Linked DNA regions of Homo sapiens: region 2 is linked to region 1. A link means that fine-mapping ties the variant in region 1 to the expression of a gene that starts in the linked region. Tissue or cell type: blood mononuclear cells. Region 1 holds a variant in brackets; the other region holds the start of a gene. All regions are shown on one strand. Distances are from middle to middle.

What was found. PIP is the estimated chance that this variant, and not a neighbour inherited with it, causes the effect.
Region 2: BTBD6 starts here. The variant in region 1 is fine-mapped to the expression of BTBD6 in blood mononuclear cells (TOPMed, PIP 0.94).

What each region holds. Positions count from the first base shown.
Region 1 is chr14:105,114,705-105,117,382 of GRCh38, forward strand. No RefSeq gene overlaps it. Among named protein-coding and RNA genes, the nearest start is that of LINC02298, 22 kb to the left of the region's middle. The variant G/A (reference allele first, on the strand shown) is at 1,170.
Region 2 is chr14:105,246,996-105,249,673 of GRCh38, forward strand. BTBD6 (BTB domain containing 6) reads left to right here and starts at 1,538. Exons shown (of 4, transcript NM_001387567.1): 1 at 1,538-2,090; 2 at 2,162-2,252; 3 at 2,365-2,483; 4 at 2,645-2,678. The coding sequence starts at 1,717. The region is part of intron 5 of BRF1 (BRF1 general transcription factor IIIB subunit); the gene reads right to left. RefSeq lists an enhancer at 1,164-1,954 and silencers at 1,330-1,889, 2,090-2,139.

The DNA of each region.
Region 1 (2,678 bases):
ACGGGAACCCATGTCTCTGCTGCCCCACAAACACAGCAAGAGCCGCGAGCACGCGAATGCATGGCCAAGTTGGGAGGTCAGAAGGAGGGATGGGACCAAAGGAGGGAGTGTGTGTTTTTTTTTGTTTGTTTTGGTTTTTTTGAGACGGAGTCTCGCTCTGTCGCCCAGGCTGGAGGGCAGTGGTGCGATCTTGGCTCACTGCAAGCTCCGCCTCCCGGGTTCACGCCATTCTCCTGCCTCAGCCTCCCGAGTAGCTGGGACTACAGGTGCCCACTGCCACGCCTGGCTAATTTTTGTGTTTTTAGTAGAGACGGAGTTTCACCATGTTGGCCAGGATGGTCTCCATCTCCTGACCTCGTGATCTGCCTGCCTAGGCCTACCAAAGTGCTGGGATTACAGGCATGAGCCAACACGCCCGGCCAGGGAGTGTGTTTAAGAAGTCACGTGGCACACGGGGTGGAAGCAGAGGTAGATGGTCCGCCTGGGTGCTGAAGGCCCTTTCAGAACACAAAGAGAAATTAGGAGAATGGGCAGTGCAGGTTTTTGGGAAAAGAGCTGGTTTTTGTTGAAAAAGCAGAGGAAACCCCAGACATTGCATGGGTTTAGGCCTTAGCCTCACCACTGTCGAGAGCCTCCTGCCCAGGAGGGCCAAATTCTAACCTCCAATCTGCTTGGTGAGGACCTTAAGATCCTTTCCACCCTGGCAAGCCACCTGCCAGGGTGAGCTGAGAAATCAGCCAGGGGAGCAGAGTCACTTATGGCCAAGAGGAATTGTTCTGGGGTTTGGTTAGTAAGCAGGAGAAAGAGGAGAAGAAAACTGCGTATGGGGGTTGAATGCCTCTAGCAGAAGAAGGTGAGGCATAGAGGCCTCTTACCACTAGGGAACATATTGGAGTCACGCAGCAAAGTATGTTAACAGCAGAAGTTACCCAAGTCACAGAGCACCAACATATGCTATTGGTGGCAGGAATCCGAGCTACCGGTGGTGAGTCTGTAGGGGTCTGCAGCAACCTCAATTCTTGCCTCCTCAGAAGAAAGAATTTGACTGTGGGGCACAAGGCAGAAGGAGAGACCGAGGCCAGTTTCAGAGCAGAGGCAAAGGTTCATTAAAAAGTTTTAGAGCAGGAAGGAAAGGAAGGAAAGTGCACTTGGAAGAGGGCCAGGCGGGC[G/A]ACGTGGAGGGCAAGTGCCTCTTTTCTCTCCTTGATTGGGTTTTCTCATTGCTTTTCTATTTTATTTTGATTTCATCCCCAAATAATTAGCTCCTAGACTTACTTATTTGTTCTAACCAACCTGAGTCCGTTCATTTTTGCTTCTGTCTTTACGATCTGACCCTTTGGGATGTGGTCGCCCATCATCCCCATGGCAGGCAGGGAGCCGTTTTGACAGCAGCATCTCCCTCTCTCACTCCCACCTGTGGAGGACAGCCTCGGGACTGGCCCAAATGCCAGCATTTGCTCTCCTGCCTATTTCCCAGGCCGTGGTGAGGGGCTTTTCCTCAGGGTCTTCATGGGGAGAGTCAGGGGATGAGTGCCTCTCTCCTCACTTTGCACTCCTTCCTCTATGTCATGCCAAGGCACTTCAGCGGCTCAGCCTCCAATGATGGAGGTGACTCTGGAGCTCAGGCTTCAATCAACCAACGAAGAAAAATGTTAGAGACACTTCCAGCTTTTTCTTTTTTTTTTTTTTTTTTTGAGATGGAGTCTTGCTCTGTCGCCCAGGCTGGAGTGCAGTGGCGCAATCTCCACTCACTGCAAGCTCCACCTCCCGGGTTCACACCATTCTCCTGGCTCAGCCTCCTGTGTAGCTGGGGCTACAGGTGCCCGCCACCATGCCCGGCTAATTTTTTGTATATTTAGTAGAGACAGGGTTTCACTGTGTTAGCCACGATGGTCTCAATCTCCTGACCTCGTGATCCGCCTACCTCGGACTCCCAAAGTGCTGGGATTACAGGCATGAGCCCCCACGCCCGGCCACTTCCAGCTTCTTGAACTAAAAATATTGAATTCAGAATCTCTTGTAAATGCACACAGCTCAACAGACTCTAATCTTTAAGTTTGTGCTTCCCTCCCAGGTCTAGTGTTTGCAGAAGCCACCCACCCCCACACACACACCCCCAGTCTTCTAACAATATAAATGACAAATCTTGCAAACCTTTTGATGTGTAAGCCTTCTTTTCCCAAATTAGGTTTGTGCTGATACCCCTGGGACATGCCGGGATCTGATTGTAATTGCAGGTTTGGAAGTGGTGAGGTTGGTAGTGGTGGAGTGGGATGGAAATCAGCACCTGCTTGCAAAGTAACCACATCAGGTGAGGTCACAGAGAGGTCTTCAAACAATGCAGGACCAGACCCATCAAACAGGGGCTACTTCTCTTGGTGTGATTGTCAGGGTATGCAGCTCATCGCCCCCCTCCTGATTCTGGGGTCCAACACCTTCCCAGTCCATGCCCTGATTCTCACAGAAGAGACCTGAGGGAGGGTGAAAGTCCGGTCTACATTGGCATTCAGCAAACCTCCCAATAATGCCCTGAGGCTGACCTGAGGGCACACCAGACTCAACAGCCTTAAGAGAGAAGAGATTCTTTCAGTGATGATGGAAACCTTGTTCTCTGACCAGGCCTTGAGCTCAGCATTTGAAAAGCCCAACTGTGTCATCTTGTTTCCTGAGACTCTCCAGTG
Region 2 (2,678 bases), 130 kb after region 1:
TGTTGCTGATGGACATGTAGGCTGTCTCCACTCTGGCCATTTGTATTTCTCCTGGAAACTGCTTATGCCCGTTACCTTTTTCTATGGAAACAGACGGCTGGGACAGAAACCACGGCCACAGCAGCCAGCGTGTCTTTGCCAGTGGGGTCCCACACTATGAAATCGCAGCTGTGGCCTCGGTGGGTGTGTCCTTGGCGGGTGCATCCACACACTTTCTCTCGGAACTTTCCGGACTCTCATGCATATGCTACAGCTTTCCAAACGGCTTGGCCGTGCGGAGTTACGCACCCACCTGCAGCAGGTGATCTCCAGCTGCTCTGCATTCCACCAACACTACGTGACAAGTCTCAAGTTCAGCCGCCTGGGGGCTCGGGCACCCCATTCCTGGGAGAAATGATGATTTGTGCACTCTGGGCCATTGCATGGTGTCTGTTCACGTCCTTTGCCCGTTTTTTAAAAAACTGGGTTGTCAGCCTTTTCCTTCCTGACTTGTAGTTGCTCCTCCATCCTGGAGAGTCCTTTGTTGAAAATACCGCAAATATCTTCTGAAGAGGACTCTCCCAGGGAACATTCACTACAACTGTAACGACCACAGAGACACAGAGCTCCTGTTCACTGTTTAGCCCAGGACTGCGGTGACAGGTGCACCCATGACCCGAGATGCTGGCTGCGTCCTGTGGGGTTTCCTGCATATGGAAGTTTTAAAAGTCTAAAGCCTGGCGGTCCAGGAGGTTGCGTGTGTGTCCTCGGGGAGGAACCCTCCTGACAGCCAGGCCTCTGGAGCTTCGTCTGCACGCGAGCTTGGCATGCACCAGCTGTGCGGCCCAGGCCAGGTGACACGGCCTCTGAAGTCTGGTCTCCTCATCAGCAAAGCCAGTGCCCCATGCCACGCACCTCCCAGGATTAGCCCCAGGCCGGGAGGCTAGAGGCCCCACAAGGAGCGAGCCTGCGACTGCGATCCACAGGCAGAGCCACAGAGGCAGGGCGCGCCCTGGGGCCCAAGCTCCAGGGCTGCAGGCCCAGGGCCAGATCCTGACTTGCCCACCCGCCGGCTGTGTGACCTTCAGCGCGCGACTAACCTCTCTGTGCCTATTTCCTCGAGGAAAATGCCGGGAAATAGCAGCGCCTGCCCCTGTAAAGCCCTCAGAGCAGAGTGGACCGCGCTCTCTGCAAGCGCTGGCTGCTGGCGTCCGTAGCAAGCTAAATCGCGAAGCATCTGAACGAACGAGGAAGCCCAACGACCATCCCACAGGCCGCGGCCAGAGGCAGACTCCGGAATGCAAATGGCCAAACAAGCAGGTCCACCTGCGTTCCTAACCAAAAGATCGCTAACTGAAGAACGGGCGCAAGCACCTGCGCATGGCACTGCGGGTCTGGGGGCGGCCGCCTGCCAGCGCCGGGAGCCGCCTTCCACGGCTACCTCTGCACAGCGCGCGGCTCGCGCCGGTTGCTGGGCAGAAGCTCGAGCAGCTTCGAGGATGTCGGGCCTGGGGGCGGGGCCGCGAGGCAGCGACGTCGCGCGGGGCGCGGCCCTGACGCAGCGTGACGCACCGGCGCCGCGGCGGGTACGGGCTCGGGCGGGCGGGCGGGCGGGACGGCGCCCCCCGCGGCCGGGCCTGGCCGGGCTGCGCTAGGCTGGGCTCGGGCAGGGTCGCAGGGGCGGGGGTGGCAGGGGAGCGGGTGGCAGCCCCGCGGGTCACAGCGCCGCCGCCGCCCATGCTGCTGCCCCTAGCCTGCCTGCACGGCCGCGTCGCTCAGTGCCTGACCTCCTTGCTTTTGCTTGCAGAGCCGCTCCCGAGGCCCCGGCGCGGCGCGAGGGCGCGGGGCGCGGCGTCCACAGGCGCCGAGGCTGCCCCCGCCGCCCCGCCCGCGAAGATGGCGGCGGAACTCTACGCTCCCGCCAGCGCCGCGGCCGCGGACCTAGCCAACAGCAACGCCGGCGCCGCCGTGGGCAGGAAGGCCGGGCCGCGCAGCCCGCCCAGCGCCCCCGCGCCAGCGCCGCCGCCGCCCGCGCCCGCGCCGCCCACACTCGGCAACAACCACCAGGAGAGCCCCGGCTGGCGGTGCTGCCGCCCCACGCTGCGCGAGAGGTGAGCCCGTGCCCCGCGGCCCCCGCGCCCGCGCGCGCCCACGCCCCCAGCCCGTGCCTCTACCTTTGCAGGAACGCGCTCATGTTCAACAACGAGCTCATGGCCGACGTGCACTTCGTCGTGGGGCCCCCGGGGGCGACCAGGACGGTGCCCGCCCACAAGGTGGGTAGCGGCGGCCCCTCTCGGAACGCGTGCCCCGTCCGCCCCGTCCGCCGTGTGGCTGACACGCAGCCTGCGGGAGAGCCAGGCTCACGGCGGCGCTTTCTCCTCCCAGTACGTCTTGGCTGTCGGCAGCTCCGTCTTCTATGCCATGTTCTACGGAGACCTGGCGGAAGTCAAATCTGAAATTCACATTCCAGACGTGGAGCCCGCAGCCTTTCTGATCCTCTTAAAGTAAGTCCACTCTACTGGGGAGGGACGGGTGGGTCCGTTTTAGGCGGCCTCCGGAGGCTTCTGAAGGGAAGCACACAGGAGCTGATGGACTCCTCTCCCAGGCCCAGCCCCGCGATGGGTGCTTGGGAGCCAGCCCCTGACGCGGGCCCTGCCTCGCCTAGGTACATGTACAGTGATGAGATCGATCTGGAAGCC